Linked DNA regions of Homo sapiens. The protein of the gene in region 2 purifies or fractionates together with the protein of the main gene of each other region. This does not show direct contact. Each region holds a gene or a part of one and is shown on either strand. Other genes may lie near its edges.

Region 1 (7,208 bases), on a different chromosome or scaffold from region 2:
AACACTCGGATGGCTTGGGAACATCAAGCTTATGGGAATACATAACATCACCAGCAGCATGTCCTGAATGAAAAAGCAGAGGGGCTCAAGACAGATTCCAAGCTCATGCACAAGAGCCGCCCATGGGGCAGTGGGTGTGGGCAGAGAGGAAGGAGAAACCCTGGGAAACTGTGGAACCAAAAACAGTAGAGAAAGGACCCTCAGGAGGCAGTAAAGTGCAGCATCAAATGCGGCTGGACATCACAGAAGATGCGTGTGGTGTGATGGGCTTTATCTCACCTAGCTCATCGCATCTTATTTTTTGAGACGGAGTCTCGGTCTGTTACCCAGGCTGGAGAGTAGTGACATGATTTTGGCTCACTGCAACCTCTGCCTCCCGGGTTCAAGAGATTCTCCCGCCTCAGCCTCCTGACTAGCTGGGACTACAGGTGCGTACCAACACGCCCGGCTAATACTGTATTTTTAGTAGAGACGAGGTTTCACCATGTTGGCCAGGCTGGTCTCGAACTCCTGATCTCAGGTGATCCACCCGCCTCGGCCTCCCAAAGTGGTGGGATTACAGGTGTGAGCCACCATGCTCGGCCTGATTTTATTTTTTACAGCAAAGATTAGCCAACTGCAGCCTGCTTTTGTATGGCTAAACTAAAAGTCTTTTTCATATTTTTAGAAGGTTAAAAAATGTAAGAATATGGGACAGAGACAGAATGTGGCCCTTACAAAAAAGCCTGCAGGATGGCTTGTAACCTTGGCAAAAACAGATTCAGGGGAAAAAATGGGGACAAAAGCCAGACTGCAGGTTACTGTGGAACATAAAAATAATGAAGCACTAAAGCAGCTCTTTCATGACATCCAGCTATGAGACAAGAGCTTCGTGGGGACAAGAGCGGGGGAAGAAGTTTGCTGGTTGTACAGATGGAAGAGAGGTGAGCATTGCCCAACACAAACAGGAAGAAACAACAAGACAGAAGGATGAAAATACAGGAAAGGGAGGCTATGACTGAACGAGGCTCCCTTATAGGGAAGAAGGATACCAGATCCAGAACATAGACAAGAAAGGACACCTACTTTTGAGGTAACAGGAAGGCAGGAAAGGGTGGCTGCAGACAAACATCTAAGTCTGCAGCCATATAGGTGAGAAACATCCCAGTTATGGCTTCAGTTTTCTCCAAGTCATCTGCTGGTTGCAAGGCAGGAGTGGCAGGATCAGGGATTTAAGGAACAGGCTGAAGTCTCGAAATGTCTGTAGTGAAGGCAGTGTGTGCTGACTCAGTGTTTGCTCTACAGAATGCACAGCAGCCTCAAAGACCCAGTCAGTGTTAGAGACCACAAACCAGACTTGCATTCACGTGGCTGCCCACCACAAGCCACAAGCATTTTCCAGATAATGGAACATATCAACTCTGATGGACATTACAAATCCTGATGGACATTAGAAACTCTGATGGACACCTAAAATATCTTGTTGCTTTCTTGCCCTTTGAAAAGAACATATTTAGATAGTGGTTAAGCACAGGCATTGGAATCAGACCTGGGTTAGAACTCAAGCTTTGTCACTTACTAGCCATGTAACTTTTGCTGAAGGAATTAGAATATTAACCTCAGTGACCCATGGTAGAAAACAGGATATCACTATCTGCCTCAGTTATCATGAGGATTAAATTAAACCAGATTTATAAAATACAGTAGTCTAGTGAGTGGCAAGAGAAACGGCTCAGTAAATGATAACTACATCATCATCATTATTATGAGCAGCAGCAGTATTTTGCTACCTCAACATGACTGGTGCTGGCTTAGCTTAGTGGCAGAATGAAGCCCGGACAGATGTCAGGGCACTCCCACCTCCATACAACTTCCACTGTGTCACTAACCAAGTGACCCTGGCAGGATCCCCTGGATATCAAGTTTCCAGTCTGCAGAATGAGGGGACTGGACTGCACTACACAGTTCCCAAGGCTTTTCCCGTCTGCATCTAGGGCTAACAGTGCTCTGCACTGTGAAAATAGGAACTTTCAAGCAAGCACGTTCCTCGATGTACTACTTTGTGGTCAAAAAGACTTGAGTCTGAATCCTGTTCTTATTGAATGAAGATGAGTTCTTTAACACTTTTGAGACTCGGTTTCCTCATCTAGAAAAGAGTAAGCGAATCGCAACGAATGGTAGTGTGATGATTTAACACAGAGCACTCAGGGAGGAGCCGCTGGCTATCCCTCCTCTGCCGCACCTCCCAGGGTAAACGTGGGGACCAGCACCGCTCCCGGGCAGACCCGCGAGCGGCCCGCACGACGCCCGACCTGAGCCTTTGCTCAAAGCAGGGGGCCAGTCCTTATGTTTCTGAACACAAACAAATGGAGAACAAACTGGGACCTTATTAAAAAGGCAGGCTTTGGGGGTGTTACTGCATTGAAAAGCCCTATTTAGGCTTGGCCCTGAGAAATTTTTCTCTTGGGTCACGCATGTTCACGGTCCTCCCAGGCGAAGCCGCCCTGGGGACGAAAACCGATCACAGAGGCAAACTCAGGGGCGAATAAGGACCGCAGGACGCCAAGGAGGGGCGTGGAGCTGTGGGATCCGCGCGGCCCTTGGGTTGCCCTGCCTGCAGCGGGAATTTGTGTGCCTCCTCGCGGGCACTGAGCGGGGCGTCCCAGGGGGCGTTGGCTTCCACCCCCACCATTCCCCAGCCGGCCCCGCCGGTAACGGGCTTCGGCGACGGCACCCAAGCGGGTCCTCAGGAGCGGCCGCCGCGCCCGGGACGCCGCAGCCCCAGCCCAGGTGGGAGGTCGGAAATCGGCGCGGCCAGCTGGGCAGCGGCTCAGCGGGGCTGGGGGCGCGGGGTCAAGCCTGGCAGTCCGGCCCGGCGGAGGCGCGGCTGACAGGGCAGCCCCCCAGCCCGCCGGGCCTCACCTGGAAGTGCTCCTGAAAGCGAACAGGGAGGATCTGCGCCATGGCTGGTGCGGGACCTCGGCGGCGGCGGCGGCAGCGGCAGGAATGAACGCCGACCCCTCGCGCGGGCTGACCGGTGGCGACGGCGCAGGCGCAGTGCCCCGAGCTCCCGGTCCTGGCCCCCGCCCTCCTCCCTGACCGCGCCCCGGCCCGCACCCCCTTTCCCCGCCCCTTCCCCCGCCCCTGCCCCGCCCCTGCCCCGCCTCTGCCCCGCCCCTGCCCCCGCCCCTGCCCCCGCCCCTGCCCCCGCCTCTGCCCCGTCCCGCCTGCGCGGATCCCTCCGCCCGCTCCGAGGGTCCGCGGAAAGTAGTCCCGCGCGCCCTCTGCCCTGACGCGGTGTGTGCCAGCTACCCGAGTGAAAGGTTTTCGGGGGATTAATCCTGATGGGGTCTGCGGCGGCCCTTGCCCAGCGCCTTCCACATGTGGAGCGGGCCAGTGGTGCTAGTTCTGCCGCCAACTCTGGACGGTTGAGTTCAGGGCCACTTTTTACTCAGGCACGGATGTGACAGAAAGATGGAAAAGGGTCTTGGAAGAACCACATGTGCCGTATAACGAACGACCTTTTGGTCTGAGGAGGACCGTGTATATGACGGTGGTCCCATAACATGATAACGGAGCTGGAAACTTCCTGTCCTCTGGTGAGGGCTTAGCTAAGGACATTTCCTCTCCTGTATTTGGAGATACACGTACAGGTATGTCATTACCGTGCCAGGGGAATAACGCACCTCACACGCGGTGCGGGTTTGCGGCCTAGCAGCAGCGGACCGCATCAGCTGCCTAGTTGTGTAGTGGCTGTGCCATCTGAGTTTGTGTAAGTTACCTTGTGATGATCCCACAACCGAGACGCATGTCTCAGAATGCATGGATGCATGGGACGCGTGACTGTACGTGTTACAGACGTGTTTCGGCGTGAGGCTCGGCCCCTGCTCCTTTAGGAAACACCTTTCCTGGCTCATGCGGTTTCTAGAGAACACTGTGTCGGAATATCAATGTAGAGAGTCAGCGAAGGTCATCTAGCAGCAGATGACCAGCCCCAGGCCAGTGAGGATCACCCAGAGTGCCCGTGGCTGCACGACAGTAGTAGCAGGTGGAAGCTGGAGCCCACACCTGGTTTGCCCAGCAGCCAGTTGTTTTTCCGAGGCACCGTTGGCTGATGTTTTGCATACAGATGATTCAGCTGCATAAAAGATGTCTGTCAGGAAAGGGAAGCCCTTGGCATTCAGCACAGGCACTCCCTACGGGGTAATCGATAGCCGTCTCTGCTGCTTCCCATGTTGCTCACTGGTAATTTTAAGAAATGAACGGCCCACCTTGAATAAGACAAGGATGGTGCAATTATTTGCGCAATGGCTTGACCATCTAGTAGCCAAAAATATGTTAAGGAATAGAACAGACTGTTCACTTTCAAATTAAATCTCTTTTCCAGTATTAGCCAAGACCTCTGCAGCCCGCCCTTTCTAAAATCCATGTGGCCTCATCCGCTAAATATAGAGCTGGGTTTTGCTGTGGTTAGTACTACATTTCCCAAATCTCTTTATTTTGGCAATGATGCCTGTGACTCCAAGTACCCTTTACCCCAAACATTATATAAATTTTTTAGTAATTAATACCATCACTCCCTAAATCACCTTCCCCAGGGCTTTTTGGGGATTAAAACTAAAATTTTATACCCTAAAAGAAAGAATTTAAGAAAATCATAGTTAAGCAAAGTGACAGGATTGTTAATACGTCGGGACCTCAAGTGGGGATTAAGTTTCAACATTAATTTTAGAGGAGACACAAATCTTTCTGTCTCTTCAAACCATAGAAGAGACAGAAAGCACAACAGTTATTTGAATAGACAGAAGTGAATATAAGTGATAGTTGTAGTTAACAGGAAATAAAGTTGTTAATATACTTGTAAAAAAATTAAATGTTCTGACTTGAAAGGGACTTTAATATTCTCACCACTTGTAGGTAACTTGCTAAGTAACCCTAAAAAAACCTTTCAATTCTTTTTTTTTTTTTTTTTTTTTTGAGACAAGAGTCTCGCTCTGTCGCCCAGGCTGGTGTGCAGTGGCACGATCTCTGCTCACTGCAACCTCTGCCTCTCAGGTTCCAGCCATTCTCCTGCCTCAGCCTCCCAAGTAGCTGGGACTACAGGCGCACGCCACCGCACCTGGCTAATTTTTCATTTTTAGTAGAGACAGGGTCTCACCATGTTGACCAGGCTGGTCTCAAACTCCTGGCCTCAGGTGATCCATCCACCTCGGCCTTCCAAAGTGCTGGGATTACAGGTGTGAGCCACCGCGCCTGGCCCGGGATTAAGTTTCAACATTAATTTTGAAGGGGACACAAACCTTCAAACCACAGAAGAGAGAGAAAGTGCATCAGTTATTTAAACAAAGGGAACTGAATATAAACAATAGTTAACAGGAAGTAAATTTAAAATAATAAAAAGAAAATCCCAAGATATGGAGTTACAAACATAGGACACAGCTACCACCCCTAGAGCTCAAAGATGAAAGAGAAGCTGGAATTATTACAGCTTAAAGGAAGGGCTTGCAGAGCTGGAATTCAGATCTCTGAGGAGGTGTGTTGACCAGCTGGGGCTGGGGTCATTGAGCCCAGAGGAGAGATCCCATGGGGATGGGACTCAGACCTCTGAGGAGGGTCCCTACGGGACTTAGACACACACTATGGATGAGGGGTGGCTGTGGAGCTGGGAGTAAGCCCTCTAAAGAGGGCACTGGGAGACTCTCACCCAGATCTCTAAGGAGAAGGCATACTGAGGCTGGTTCTGCAAGTCTTGGAAAAACTTAAACTGGATTCAGCTTCTGTGGGAAGAATGTGCTGCTGCCTTGTTGAAGAAGCCTAGCTGGGGTGATGCTCACAGGAAGTGGCCCTGTGGTCTCCCTCTATCAACCTATCAGCTTAGTCTAATAGGGAATATTAGATCAGATCTTCTTTATTTGCCAATGAGAAATATGTTTTTTAGAGTCTCAGCCCTGGCATCAGAAGCAGTGTCTAGAGGTGGGAAGGGAGAATAGAGCTGAAAGACATTATTTAATAACTGGTACAAGAAACGACATGTTATAGCTAAATTCCAATTCCCATGGGACTTTCCTATAGGTGGAATTGAAAAGTCTGTGGAGGCGTATAATCGCAGCGCTTTGGGAGGCTGAGGTAGGAGGATTGCTTGAGCCCAGGAGTTCAAGACCAGCCTGGTCAACCCCATCTCTTCAAAAAAATTTAAAAATTAACAGGGCATGGTGATGCATGTCTATAGGCCTAGTTGGGAGGCTGCAACAGGAGGATCACTTGAGCCCATGAGCTCAAGGTTACAGTAAGCTATGATCGTACCACTATACTCCAGCCTGGGCAACAGAGAAAGACCCTGTCTTTAAAAAAGAAAAAGTCACTGGAGGACTTTAGTTTTCAGACAGCTTCAGAGAACTAAAAAGGCAGTGAATAATTATGAGGCCAATATCAGAGAGAAAGGACATGAGAGAGGTGAGTGGTTTATGGCTGCTTTTTCTTGAAAGGCATCTGCCAATTCCAGATGAATGTTTGAGACACTAGGACTCTGAGCAGCACTTTTAACACTCTCATTGCCCTAGGACGACAAAATTTGGAGGCTTGGTACCACCAAGGAGGTATCCCACTGTACTGTTTTGGGACCACAAGTTGTTTGGGACTCCATTCAAATCATGTCAGTCCTTGCCAGCAGCAAATGTAAATCTTCCCTGGGAATGATAACCTCATCCATGGTCTCAAATTACTTCTACAATTGTTCATATGCAGTGTTCAACACTGAATCAAAAATAAGTAGGCATCCAAGGAGAAAAGACAAAATGGTTGCAAAAAACAAGAGCAAGCCTGGACAACATAGTGACACCCTGTTTCTAAAAAACTAATAATAATAATAATTAGCTGAGCATGCACCTCCAGAGTCTGAGGCAGGAGGATGGCTTGAGCCCAGGAGGTCAAGGCTGCAGTGAGCCAAGATCACACTGCTGCACTCTAGCCTCGGTGATAGAATGAGGCCCTGTATCTGAAACAAAAACAAGAACAGTAACAGACAAGTGAGCTCTAGGGGATCAAAAAATGGAGTTTTCACAAAGACTTTTAAATAATTATGCTTAATATGGTTAAGAGGATAAAAGACAAGGTTAAGAATTTTATCACAAGCCTGTAAATTATAAAGAACCAAATGGAAATTCTAGAACTGAAATTGTGAAAATTCACCAGATAGTGTTAGCATATTACACACCTCTGAAAAGAGAAAG
Region 2 (7,026 bases):
CAAATCAAGGAAGTTTTGCTATTAAAAAGTTGTCACTTAAACTAAACAAAATATTTAATAGTGTAGTTGACTTACATCCTGGTGCAAGCTCATTTTCTCACTGTGGACTGGTAACAAAAAATTCATTGACCAGTGCCAGTCTGGGGACCATATTTTGAATAGCACTGACGTAGAGGGCCCCAGAATTTTATACAGCCCACCTTCAATACAATGGCATAAATGGAGGGACTGCCTCCTTCTGACCATTTTGCTGTTCAAAGATCCTCTTATTTCCTTGAAATAAAGGCATCAATAATTATTTCTTCATTCTAACAATCTAACTAAACCTAAAAACCTATGAAAACAACAGTTGCCCCATTTTTAGAAAGAAGAGGATGTGTGCTTACTCTTCTTGGCGTAAGTCATTGACGCTGCGGTCCAGTGAGATCATGTCACTTGCCACCATGTTAAATCCAAACTCTTTAATGCTGGCTTGAATTGCTTGTTTGAATTCTGGTCCCAAAACCAATGGCTTGGCTTTCTCTCCAGGGCCACCAACCACTCCAGGAGGCTCAGGTTCTTTGGGTTCAAAGTTACCGAGGATCCCTGGGCGAAGCACAGGATCATGGTAGGTGAATGTCTGAGGCTTAAATGTGAGATACTGCCTCTGCATGATATCTTTCTGGGAATCTCCTCCAGCATGGTGCTCTTGTTCATTTTTGGCCTTGTTTATTCTTCTAATAGACTCTAAGTCCACTTCTACTCCTTCAACATGAGGCCATGGTACCACAGGTTTGAATCTGTCCTCCCCAGGAGCTAGTCCATTGCCGCCTCGGTTGGGCATGGGGTCATTGACATCTCTGTCTTCCTATACAAAAGGGAGGGGATATACAATGAGTACATGAAGGCAAACCACCACAGTAGAGCTCATGAGACCAATTTTCAGGTTTTGAAAAAGGCTGAGGCAACAATAAAACAGTTTGGAATACAAGCGGGCCATTAATCAGGACTTCCCATTAGGAGATATCTTTCAGGGTAGAGAAGAAATACCAAGAAATAGGCTATCTCCTCGCCTTACTATTTCAAAATTAATGAAAGGATGCATTTTTACTTCTCCCTTTACAAATCTACTTCTCTATCAAAGACCTCTTAATAAAGCATATTTTTAAGGGTTAGAGCAAAGAAGTTCTAGAATCTTTGATTAAAACAGATGCTTAATAGGTCATGTTTGTACAGTATGTGGTTTTCCCAGTTGTACCGTGTGTGATAAATATAACCTTTTGTCGGTAGCACAACCATATGGTGGCAGTGGTATTAGATGGATGTCACTGTCAGCAGGCTGGCTCAGTGCCCCAAATGGCAGAGGAACAAGGCGGGGATATGCAGAGTCCCGATTTGGTATTTTTTACTCACTGAGAGTTTATCTGAAATCAGAAGTATAAAAAAAGCTAATATCTGTAACTAAGTCAGCTCGGGCTTTTAAACCACTCCCCCATATCTAGTTTGCCCCATTCCAGAAGCAGCATGGGTCAAAACAGATTCTTTGTACAAGGATATTCATTCACAGTAAAGGGTGCCTCTCTTTTCTGTTTGGGCCGTCTTCATCACCTATGCAGATCTTCCAGTCAGATATCCTGAGTGCTTTTGCTTCTGAGGTATTATTTGTTAAGTTTTTTCCTAAGCCAGTACCATTCTTCGCACAAGACACTGTTTCTCAACATTGGCATCACCTTGATCACTTTAAAAAATGCCAATGTCTGTGTCTTACCCTCAGACATTGTGATTCAATTGGTCTAAGCATTTCGATTTTTAAAAGCACTCCTGGTGATTTAATATACATCTAAGCCTGAGAATCACTGGCTTAATGGGAGGGCTGCTCGTTATAATTAGACAAGGGGATTATAGAGGACACAGCTGGTGAAGAGGCAAGGTGCATACAGAATAAATGCAAAATAGGCTGATGGGTCTGCCACTTCCCTCTACACTAAAACTGTGTGATTCCCCAACAGAGTAGTCATAGAATTAGCACCACCCGACCAAAATCTTTCTACAGGGTTAGAGCTACCTTGAAAAGTAAAGTTTACTAGTTTGCCTTAAAAAATACAAAAGTAAGTCTCTAAGTATGATGTTGATGTGTAGGCTGCTCTCTATTAGTAGTTTATTTAGAGGCAAAAACCTTTATAGAAAGTCAGTTATTTCAGACGTGAAATTAGTAGTCAAGGGATCGCTAAGTCTTGATTTTCAAGAGTTCAAAAAGAAATTTTTAAAAATTTTCTATTTGTTTAGGTAACATAGGCATACAACACAAAATTCAAAACATCCAAAAGGGCATGTAGTGAAAAGCAAGCTTTCCTGCCTTTCCTTCTGCAGGGGTAATTACAGCTACCAACTTCTTGTGAATTTTTCTACAGATGTGATATGCATGTATAAACATACATGTGTATATATAACAAGATAATTTTTTTTGAAGATGGGACATAAATTTTAACTAACTCATTAAAAAAGGAACCTGTAAGATATTACAACTGGTTCAAAAATAAATCCAAAGGACAAACATAAACATCAAGAATATTGCAAAGAATTTACAAATAGATGCAAATCTGGTTAAATTGGTCACTCTGCATAGGGCAATAATCAATTGCATTCCACCAGAACTATTTCCATTTCAATGGGCAAGAGTCCTTTGCATCACTCTCAGTTTTCTGTAATTTCCAGGATTGTAAAATAGGAAAGGGTGAGATAAGCTGGAAAGTTGAGTTAGACAGACATCTTTTGGGAGCATTTCAAAGTTTTTCACAAGTTCCCCCCTAAATAGAAAAGGCAACACAGCCTGATTGTATAAATGTGATGCCTTTCTTCAGGCATGTGTGGTACAGGGTTGAGAAAGCCTCTAGATCAGCCTTCTGATTGTCCCACCTCAGAGACTTAGCTTGAGCCTAACCTGTGAGCCATACTAAGGGTCAGAGTAAGTGAGTAGAAGGCTGTTTTTTTGGAAATCATATTCAGGAAGAACTGAAGATTCTCTTGGGAATTAACTAAGTAAAGTGTAAGGCACGCATGACTGTAAGAGAGAGGTAAGGGGTGATTCTGATGATGGAAAAAGTGTTCGTTTCTCCAATTTATCTCCTGGCTCCTTCCAAAATTATACTTACTTATGTTAGTGTTGTAAGTAAATTAATATAGAGATATCATTATAAAATGTTGTAACAAACTGGTTCCCAGTTGTTGATGCTGAAACAAGTATAACACAAAAAGGAGAAAGACATTCTCCTCCACTTCAGTTTTTCCTTTCACAGGCTCAAGTGAATTGGTAAACAGGGAGGTAAGGAAATGTTATTAAATATAGAAGAGTAGTTGGAACAGCTCATATGATGTCAGCATCCATAGCCATAGCATCCACTAAGTTACCTAATGTTCCATAGAGAAGAAATTGAATATTAGAAGAATATAGAATATGATAGTACATGAAATCAAATTGTGAAATACACGCCATAGTTTAGGTTGACCTATGCTAATACCAAAATTGCAAATTTAAATATTTTTCAAATTCAACTATTTCAATGACAGAAATTTTAATGGATTAAAAATTCATGTTTATTTTCCTCCAAAAGTTGTTTTTTTTTTTTTTTTTTGACTTAATGGTTCTTTGTCTAATCTTAAACTGTTAGTGTTCTTCAGGGTTCTGTTATTAGTCTATTTGTCATTCCATCCTCATTCTAGGTTATTTCATTCTCTTCCAAGCTCAGTGACCAGTTTTATAGTGATCACTGCTACATCCATTTCCCCAGCCCGTATCACCTTTCTGAACTCAAAACCTTACAGGCAACTTCTTCCTGAACATTTCTATTCATATCTCTCTAGTACCTAAATTTAACATACCAAAAACTGAACCTATCATTCACCTCACATCACAAGCCTGTTTCACTGACTGTCTCCTTACTTCAGGGACTGAAACCACCATTCACTCAACTGATGAAATCCAAAACCTGCAATCACCCTCAACTTTTTATTCTCTTTTATCTACCCTTCTGACATCCAATTAATCATAAATTCCTGTCAATTCTATCACCTGTGTAGAGCCTCCATCTGGCCACTTCTTTCTATCATCCTCACTGCTACTGCCTTAATTCAGGCACCCTCACCTCTGAACAAGATTACAATAGGAATAATAGTGATGATGGTAAACACTGTGTCCTAAGTGCTTCACATACATTAACTTATTCAATCCCATGAGTTAGGTACTATGATTGCCATGTCTATTTTATAGATGGGACATCTGACAGGGAAGTTACCTAAGATTAGAATCAGTATGTAGTAGAGTCAAAATTTCAATCCAAATAGTCTGGCTCAGGATCTACACTCTTAACTACTATGACCTAGTGCTTCTCGCCCTGACACATACTTCCTACACAGCAGCCACAGGGACTTTTCTAAAATTCATACATCAACATGTTTCTTTCCCTGCTTACCATATTCCAGCAGTAGCCCACTGCCCTCTGGAGAATACACACTCCTCAAGGGGGTTGGCAAGGCTTTTCCAGTTCTAGACTGCATTTATGAAATGTCTTCAGCACTATCCATGAGAGAGGGGTCAGCAAACTTTTTCTTCAAAGGGTTAAGTAGTAAACATGTTTGGCTTTGCAGACCACAGGGTCCCTGTGGTAATTATTCAAGTCTGCCTCTGCAGTGTGGGAGCAGCCATAGACAATATGTAAATGAATGGGTATGGCTGTGTTCCAGTAACCATGTATTTACAGAGACAGGTGTTGGGCTGGATTTGGTTCCCTAGTCCCTGCACTAGACTGTAAGTTCTGTGAAAGTGCAGAGGCTATGTCCATCGTACGCACCACTGCATGCCCAGTGCTTATCCTGGCACATAATTCCTCAATAAATACTCACTGAATAAATGAATGAATCCTAAAATTTCTGCTTTGGTGGTAAGATAGACTCCGAAAAGAAAAGGGGAGATAAAGAATGGAAAATACAAAATGGGAGAGCAGGGCTTAAATCAGATAGACCCGTACTGGCAATACCTTATGAATTCACCAAGAACATAACTCTATATTCCCTACACGGCACTGTACTTTTAATAATGCCATATAATAGCACCAGAAAAATTGAATTTGCTCACTTCTCAGAGGCTGCATGTCATTAAATCGGAAGGCAAAACCAAATACAAGAATTGTCTGTCTAACCCCAAGTCAACTAAGAATAATCACATCAAATCTTAATTATATGATTCAAACAACGGCTATAAAGTGGTGTAATACTTTACTCCCCTGAGGAGGAAAGCTACATACTCCTCCTTTCTGAGAGTGAATGAGAATCAGTAGATGCCTCTGTGACTCACTGGTACAATGATACCTTCGTAAACACCAGCTGATCCACTCTACAGCCCAAACTAATGAATCACTGTTAAACAGAAATGGAAAAGAGGATGAGTAGATAATTTTCCAAGATCAGTATGTTCATAAAGGTGGAAATGGACTGAAAAATATAACCACTTATCACTGGATGGTAATATGGATTACCAGAAGTAAGGTCAGGCTAGTAACCATCCACCTTACAACTTACAAAGTGCCCCTTCTTACCCCCAAATCCTGCTTATATGTAATATTTTTCCAAGATGGCCATGCCTTGGTAGAGATAATATAAATCCAAAGGGATTTAGAAAAATGGTCTTTAGAGCAAATGACAGTAACATAGGCTTGTTTGAATTTGAAATCACAGGTGAAGCCTAGAAAACTAAGCTTTTAATGATGAGCTTATGCAGTCACATGATCTCTTGAGAAATGATGACTTAGCTTTAGGAAAGGGCCACTGCTTGAACAACATGCACACTACTTGGTTATCATGCTTCATGAGCCACAGAATTTAAAGGTATAACAAGCCAAACTTCATTCTGTGATTTTAACTCTCTTGATCAAAAACACCTTTCTTCAGAAAAATCCTATCAGCATCCTTTCTCTGGCTGCAGTTACCTAAAAGGAGCAGAAGGAATGGACACAGAAAGCAGAGAGGGAGGTGGTAAAAATAAATAAGCTCCAGAAATTCAGAGGGAACAAGGCGTGCCAGTAGGCTGGGGCTCCCCAGACTCTCACCAACATGTGGCAGGATGTGGGTGGGAATGTGGAGTGCACCAGCCTCAGTACCCTTCTTTCTCTCTGCTTAGTTACAGCTGGATGGACTAGACATTTCCGGCTGACTGAAGAGCTCCATGTCTTGCTCCTTTCAGAGCACTGAGCGATGACTGCATTGGGAGCTGCAGCCCTGCTGGGCATGGTCAAGGAATTTGTGCTTAATCAGGGCTTAAAATGGATAAGCCCAAGATTAAACAGAGACCTTACCAGTCCTTAAATATCTAGAATGTCATCCATACAGGAAAGGACCCATTTCCAAGTATATTTTAATATCCCTAAACTAGAAAGAGATTGAAGGCCACTTTCCAATGGCAATGCCTCTGTTAGCAACTAGGGCAGAACTGAAAATGGATGAAGCATGCTTTCAGGTAACTATGGAAATATAAAAATTCTATATAAGCTCTAGGTGTGGCTTAAAGTATGATATTCTGGTAAGAATTATCTGCTCAAAGAAATAGACCCGCTTAGAGGAATTGCTATTCTTCTTTATCTTTTTTTTCCCTTTCTTTAAGTATCAGGCCAAGATATAAACCAAAGGGTAACAAAATAGAGAAAATAGTAGAGTTGACATCATAATGCTCCACTAAAAGAAATCAAGGTCAGCAACTCTAATACTGTATATTAAACTTAAGCAGGGTAACCAGGCTGAGTACTACACAGTAAACCAGTTCGTCCCAAAGTTACTTTACAGATTGAAACACTGGGACTCTTGACAATGGAGTGATGCCTATTATGGAATAGCTAATAGTTATATCTTTTATTTTTATCTCAAGACTTCTAATATACTATGGTAACTGCAGTTACAAGTGGGCAAGTCTGTGAAGCAGTTTTAGCCACCTACTGGGAAGATTTTATCGGGTTTCTAAGGGGGCATTTTGAGCCAATTAAATGCCACCCCCCTTTAACC
Region 3 (7,026 bases), on a different chromosome or scaffold from region 2:
AAAGTCCCTGTCCTCAAGAGGCTTACATTCTTATGGAAATTGGTACTAAGTATAGCCTGCTTATCTAATTCCTTTCCATCCTTCAAGACTCAGACTAATGTTCCACCTCCTTTGAGAGGCTTTCTCTAAACACCCCAGTCCTCAGGGACTGCTTGCTCCCTCTGTACTTTGCCTCTGCCAGGAGTCCGCCCAGCCCTGGCAGGCTGGAAGCTCCTAAAGAGCAGGGCCTGGGTTTACTCTTCTTTTGTTCCTTGATGGCCATATGCTAAATGCCTGCTAGCTGATTTCAGCTGACCTGCCTCTTCCACCCAGGATCTTAGCGAGCTGCTCTTGGTCCTGGCTGGCTGATGCAAAGACACAGCCTCTTCCAGCTTCACTTGGCATACAGCAAATGCTATGCAAGTGTTAGCTATTTATTGGTTTAGTGAACTTGTGGGCTCTAACACACAGCTGTGATATCACTCCTCCGCCTTCTGTGGCCTGGTCTCAAACAGGCTCAGCACTGTGGCAAGGCCAGTCTGGGCTTAGGGGTAAGTGCTTCCCAAGGGACAGGGAAGGGGGCCTGGGAAGGAACAGAGCTTTTCATCCTGAATCTCAGTTAGAACTGCTTAAGGACATATCTTTTCAGGAAAGAATTTGCTGGGGTAATTTGGGGGGAACTCTGGATTCTTGGCAAGTAGTATAAAAACTCAGGGCTCAGGTCTGGCCTAATAGACCCCAAAATCGGCTCTGTATATTAGATGAGCTTTAGGGGGAAGAAAATGAAGTCAGCATGATCCCAGGGAAGGCGGGCAGCCCACTGATCCAGGCCCAACCCAAAACTTAGTTCAGTTAAAATTAGATTAGCCCATAAGATTAAAATACCAACATATAATCACGGGCTGCTTTAAAGTATCAGTTGATGTTTATCGGCATCTAAAGAGACAGTTTGGCCCAGTGCAGTGTGTGCAGACAACCTTGGGGAGACATGCCTGACTCAGACATTTGCAGGGGGAGCGAGTGCTGCAAAATGAGGCCCACACAGGCGATGGATGACTCAGGAATAACCCAGGTCCTGGGTGTGCTGAGCGAGCCTTCTCTCCCTGCCTCAGGAGGAAAGGGGGCAGGTGGGAGAGGCGGTGAGGAGGAAAGGAGGCTGTGTATGGGCTGGCATTCCCAGAGACAGCCTCAGGCCCCCAGCTCTAGTTCCCCGTCACTCCTGTATTTTTCTGCATGCTGCCACCTCTGAGAAAGGTTATTTGCTTCACAGTGGGACTTGGAGTGGGTCAGCTTTTTCCCCAAACCCAAGAAGTGATCCACAGAAAGCAGCCAAGGCTCAAAATACTAAAGTCTTTAAATCTCCCCCAATTCAAAATGATTATGGGAAAAATTGAATTTCTAAACTGAAAAGGCCCTTGGAATCAGGGCATGAGGATGAAAAGAACACAGGCTCTGAAGTCAGACAAATCTGGGCTTAAACCCCAATGTTTTCTAGCTGTGCAAGTACCTTTCACAACCTCTAAACTAGATATGAATAAGTGGCAGCTTAGCTGGATGTGGTGACCTGTACCTGTGGTCCCAGCTACTCAGGAGGCTGAGGTGGGGGGATTGCCTGGAGCCAGGGAGGTTGAAGCTGCAGTGAGCCGTCTTTGCGCCACTGCACTCCAGCCTGGGAGACAGAGCGAAATCCTGTCTCAAAAATAAACAAAATAAAAAATTAATAAGTGGCAGCTAATTAACAAGTATTTAACAAATATATCACCAATTACCGGACGGGTGCAGTGGCTCATGTCTGTAATCCCAGCACTTTGGGGGGCCGGGACGGGCAGATCGCCTGAGGTCAGGAGTTCAAGACCAGCCTGGCCAACATGGCGAAAACCCATCTCTACTAAAAATACAAAAATTAGGCCGGGCGCGGTGGCTCATGCCTGTAATATCAGGACTTTGGGAGGCTGAGGCGGGCAGATCACCTGAGGTCAGGAGTTCGAGACCAGCCTGGCCAATATGGTGAAACCCTGTCTCTACTAAAAACAAACAAACAAACAAACAAACAAAAAAACCAAAAAATTAGCCAGGCATGATGGTTGGTGCCTGTAATCCCAGCTACTCAGGAGGCTGAGGCAGAAGAATCACTTGAACCCGGGAGGCGGAGGTTGCAGTGAGCTGAGATCATGCCTCTGCACTCCAGCCTGTGCAAAAGAGCGAGACTCTGTCTCAAAAAAAAAAAAAAAAAAAAAAGAAAAGAAAAAAATACAAAAATTAGCTGGGGGTGGTGGCGCATGCCTGTAGTCCCAGCTACTTGGGAGGTTGAAGTAGGAGAATCACTTGAACCTGGAGGCGGAGGTTGCTGTGAGCCGAGATCGCCTCACTGCACTCCAGCCTGGGCGACAGAGTGAGACTCCATCTCAAAAAAATAAATAAAAATAAAATAATAGGGAGTCAGGTGTGATGGCTCATCCCTATAATCCCAGCTACTCAGGAGACTGAGGCGGGAGGATCATTTGAGGCCAGGGATTCAAAACCAGCCTGGACAACAAAATTGGAAGATCCCCATCCCCCATCTCTAAAAAAACAAAACAAAACAAAATGAAAAATTAAGTATCTATATTATCAATTAGAAAACGGGCTCAGGCCAGGAGCAGTGGCTTACGCCTGTAATCCAGCACTTTGGGAGGCCAAGGTGGGAGGATCAGCTAAGGTCAGGAGTTCAAGACAAGCCTGACCAACACGGCAAAACCCCATCCCTACTAAAAATACAAAATTAGCCAGGTGTGGTGGCACATGCCTGTAATCCCCACTACTCAGGAGGCTGAGGCAGGAGAATTGCTTGAACCCAAGAGGCAGAGGTTGCAGTGAGCTGAGATTGCACTATTGCACTCCAGCCTGGGCAAAAAGAGCGAAACTCTTGTATCAAAAAAAAAAAGAAAAAAGAAAACAGGGGCTCAGAGAGGTTATGCCTTGCCTAAAGTCACACAGCTGGGCAACAGAGAGCTGAGACTAGATCTCAGGTATCTTAACCTTTCACCCCATCCTACATGTTTTCCATTGTAATCATTTCTCTGCCTCTCCTTTTCTCTCCCAGAGGGCATGCAACATTCTGGGGGAAAGGACAAGTCCTCCATTTCAAAGATTTGCTGCTCCACAGATAAGGGCTATGAGAATGTCAGTCCCCAGTGCAACTCTGGCCCTCATCCTCCTTCATGCAAATACAGGTATGTTCAAGTTGTAGAAAAGAACTTGGAGCTGAGCCAAAGCTGTCAAGGCTCCAGACCACCCAGACCCTTTAGCCCTTCCTGCCTACAGGAGGAACAGGTGTCCCTCCTGACAACAATCCAGGTTACCAATGTGGATGTGTCTGGTCATTGACTCTCCTCAAAGCCCCTTTAAATCTCTCATCCCCCTTGATCCAACAAGAACCCAGCATGTTGGCCTGGCAGGAGAGAGTTTGGCCTTGAGTGATTAGTCCCAGGCATGCTAAGTGACCTCAGGCAGGTCACAACCGAAGGCTCAATTTCCTTAGATGTAAAATGATGAACACATCAATACCACATGCTATTCTAACCCACAGGACCACTGAGAAGATCTAAATTAAATATTGTACACACAAGTGCTTTGGAAACAAATTTCAGTGCTAATGAGAAGTACTATTAAACTCCTCCTGCCTTGTAGAGCTAAACAAAGTTGTGCCACCTGCTCCCAACAGAGGCTGCCTCTCAGGGGACTCTGCTGGGCCCTGAGGGTAACCAAAAGCAGCCTGTCACCTTTCTGCTCAGAGGCGGGAGGTCATAAGGTCAGCCACCCCTTGTGGCTAAAGGAGACCACCCTTTACCTGGCACTTCCCTGCCCAAGCAGGGAAGAAGCAAGCTCTGGTCTGATGGCTGAGAGGGCACCGGAAGAGAGATAGCAGGCAGGGTTGCTAGCAGAGAACAAGGGATAGGCCTCCTGAATGCAGGATTCAGGTGCATCCAAGAAGACTCACAAAAACAAAGGACAGGTGCACAGCTGGACACAGAACACCTACAGCTTTCTCAAGGCAGGGACAGGGCTCCCACCAACGACATGTGCCCAACTCCTAGAGGGAGTCCTACAATTCCTGAGTGCAGGTGCAGTGAGCTGGGCGCTTCTCAGTGCAGGGCCATGTGCATCTGCTGCGGGAATGCCAGAGGCAGGAGATGCAGCTGCACCCCTCTAGCAGGCTATGCCAAGACTCGAACAGACAATAAATAGCAATTTGACATCACTGAAGATAACCTCTCTGAGCCATTTCCTCATCTGCAAAACAGAGACAGCTTTTATCTCATGTGATTTGAGTAGGGATTAAATAAGATTGCTTTTATAAAGTGCCTGACACTACTCTGTAGATACTAAGTGGCAACTATTATTAAAACACACACACCCGTTCAACACAGGAGATGTCACAGGGCAGGCAAGGCCTAATGCCACTGTTATGGATAAACAATAAGGGAAAAGGGTTTGGGAGAGAAAGAGAAAGTGACTGCTGTGGGCTGGGAAGACCTCCCAAAAGGGGAAGAATCTGCACGGCCCTGAAAGTTACTACAGTGAGCTGGGCACTCTACCAGGCATTCCCACGTTCAGCCTCTACGTTGGTCTTAAGGATGAGGCAAGTCAGGTTCAGAGAATGAGGTGCATGAACCTCAAGGTTCATGGTCACACAGGTACTGAGAGGCAGCATCAGGAGCAGAACCCAGGGCTTCTGACTACGTCTTTCCTTTGTACCAGGGCTGGACGCCATGGGGCTGGCTTGGAAGGAGAGGAAAGGCAAACTTCGAGGGTGCTCAGCTGAATGAAGTCTGGGCAATCTGACCAACTAAGCCCTCTAAGTGCCTTGGCACTCCTAGAGACACATGTCCTACCTGAAGCCTTCCTCCCAGTCCCCAGCTGACCTCCCTCCCACTGTTCTGCAGTCAGTCTGCTATTTTCCCAAAGAGAAAAAGGTCATCGCTTCCTTTTTAGAGTCCTATCTGGGCTTCTTGAGACAGTTTCAAGGTGACCTTTAGGCTATTTGTTCTTCTCTTCTTTTGAGAAGTGAGAGAGGCACCTTCTAGTGTCATTTTTATAGGAAACCAGTTGCTGGGTCTGATATCCATGCATGTGAAGTGGGCAGTGACCCCATCTCCCCTATTCACAGACTTAATCTACAGAGGAGATGGCAGGATTCGCCTTGCAAAGACCAAAACCAAAAAAAGCTATAAGATATAAAGGGACAAAAGAAGCCTTTTGTGTCCCTGGTCAGGAGACAAGATGAATACCTGCTTTATGGGCTCCCGGGCCTCTGCCAGGCATTCTGGGTCAGGAACATGGGTAAACAATTGCAGGAGATGCCAGTGGTGAGCTGAGTTACAGTGAGGCTCTCCTCTGGAATAAGTACTAGCCTGGGAGTCAGGTGAACATGGAACAAAGCAGAGTTCATGCGGGGTCCACAGCACAATGTGGGGTGGGGAATGCACCTAACTCCTAAGGCTTGGAGTCATTCCCACAGTTTTCCCAATAGCCTAAATCCTCTTCACACCACTGGCCCCTCCCCACCAAGGACAAGCAAGAATTCCTGACTGCTGGGGAGAGAAAAAAGGTCCAGAGAGGGAAGGTGACTTACCTAATGTCACCCACTGAGTCAGAGGTAGACTAGAACCCAGAAGCAACTATTCTAGAACTTCAGCTCCCACCCTGCTCCTCCCACCCCAGTCTCTGCAAGAGTCTACCCGAGGCTCTGCTCCATGGTTAGGGTAGGAAGGAGAACTGCAAAGCACTTTCTATTCTTATAGGAGGGGTAACCTGCAAGGGAAGCAGCTGCCATAGATGACAGAATGAGGGCTCCAACGGAACTCCTACCCACGCAGGGGTGTTGAGAGAATAGGCAAGACCCCAAAATCAGCTCCCAGGCTCTTGGGTATCTGAGAGTGCAGAGGGAGCATGGCCTCAGCCCCCCACCCTTATCCCTACAAGGCAGCTGGTGTCATCTTCCCTCCCGCCATGACCAGCTCAAGTGAACAGTATAGGACACATGGAAACCCTGATACCCTAAGGAAGGACATTGGTGGCAGCCTAGGTTTGAGAGATTTGTAATCCTTCAGCTCAGAGGAAGGTTGTAGGAGGCTGAGGTAGGGATGCATTTGCTGTAGGTGGTTAAAATATTAACAGGGGCAGCTGTCACTCATTGAACACTTCCTGTGTATACAAACTTTTATGTGCATTTATTTATGTAATAATCACATTAATAGCACTATAACTGGATACTATTAGTTCCCATTTTATTTTTTTTTATTTATTTATTTAGAGACGGAATTTCACTCTTGTTGCCCAGGCTGGAGTGCAATGGCGCAATCTTGGCTCACTGCAACCTCCGCCTCCTGGGTTCAAGCGATCCTCCTGCCTTGGCCTCCAGAGTAGCTGGGATTACAGGCAGCCGCCACCATGCCCAGCTAATTTTTTGTATTTTTAGTAGAGACGGGGTTTCACCATGTTGGCCAGGCTGGTATCAAAACTCCTGACTTCAGGCGATCCACCCTGCCTCAGCCTCCCAAAGTGCTGGGATTACAGGCGTGAGCCACTGCGCCCAGCTTAGTTCCCCTTTTATACATGAGGAAACTGAGGCTCAGAGATGCTGCTAAGTGGCAGAGTGGTGGCTGAATTCCACACTGCAAAGGTGAAGCTGGGAAAAATGGGCTTTCATTTTTGAGGCCTGAACAGGGACTCTTCAGATCTTTAGACCACCTTTCTCTCCACTCATGGCCAGATGCTAGAACTCCTGTTTTCAGAGGCAGAAAAATGCCTTTCCAAGGCAGAAACAGACTTTTGGAAAGGAGACCACATCCAGCCTCATCATTTTACAATGGGAAAACTGAGGTCCAAGGCTGAGTGACTTGCCAGAGTTTCCAGAGTCAGTGGAATGACAGAAATATCACACCTGGAAGGGACCACAAAGATCAACTGATGGGTAGGGAGGCGTGACTGGTCCAAGGACAGAGGGAGGTAGGAAGAGAAGCCAGGTTTTCCTGACTTCTAGACTGATATTGTTGCCATGACACC

What was found.
Region 1: the proteins of GALNT7 (region 2) and CLTCL1 purify together in Homo sapiens (affinity purification with mass spectrometry; 2 studies listed by BioGRID and IntAct, with this or other methods). This does not show direct contact.
Region 3: the proteins of GALNT7 (region 2) and SLC9A1 purify together in Homo sapiens (affinity purification with mass spectrometry; 2 studies listed by BioGRID and IntAct, with this or other methods). This does not show direct contact.

The regions. Positions count from the first base shown.
Region 1 is NC_000022.11:19,288,699-19,295,906, forward strand, and holds the start of CLTCL1 (clathrin heavy chain 2), read right to left. Parts: upstream 3,022-7,208; 5' UTR 2,944-3,021; coding exon 2,902-2,943; intron 1-2,901. UniProt on the Homo sapiens protein: Clathrin is the major protein of the polyhedral coat of coated pits and vesicles. Two different adapter protein complexes link the clathrin lattice either to the plasma membrane or to the trans-Golgi network.
Region 2 is NC_000004.12:173,241,801-173,248,826, reverse strand, and holds part of GALNT7 (N-acetylgalactosaminyltransferase 7), read right to left. Parts: intron 848-7,026; coding exon 387-847; intron 1-386. UniProt on the Homo sapiens protein: Glycopeptide transferase involved in O-linked oligosaccharide biosynthesis, which catalyzes the transfer of an N-acetyl-D-galactosamine residue to an already glycosylated peptide.
Region 3 is NC_000001.11:27,145,105-27,152,130, forward strand, and holds part of SLC9A1 (sodium/hydrogen exchanger 1), read right to left. Parts: intron 1-7,026. UniProt on the Homo sapiens protein: Electroneutral Na(+) /H(+) antiporter that extrudes Na(+) in exchange for external protons driven by the inward sodium ion chemical gradient, protecting cells from acidification that occurs from metabolism.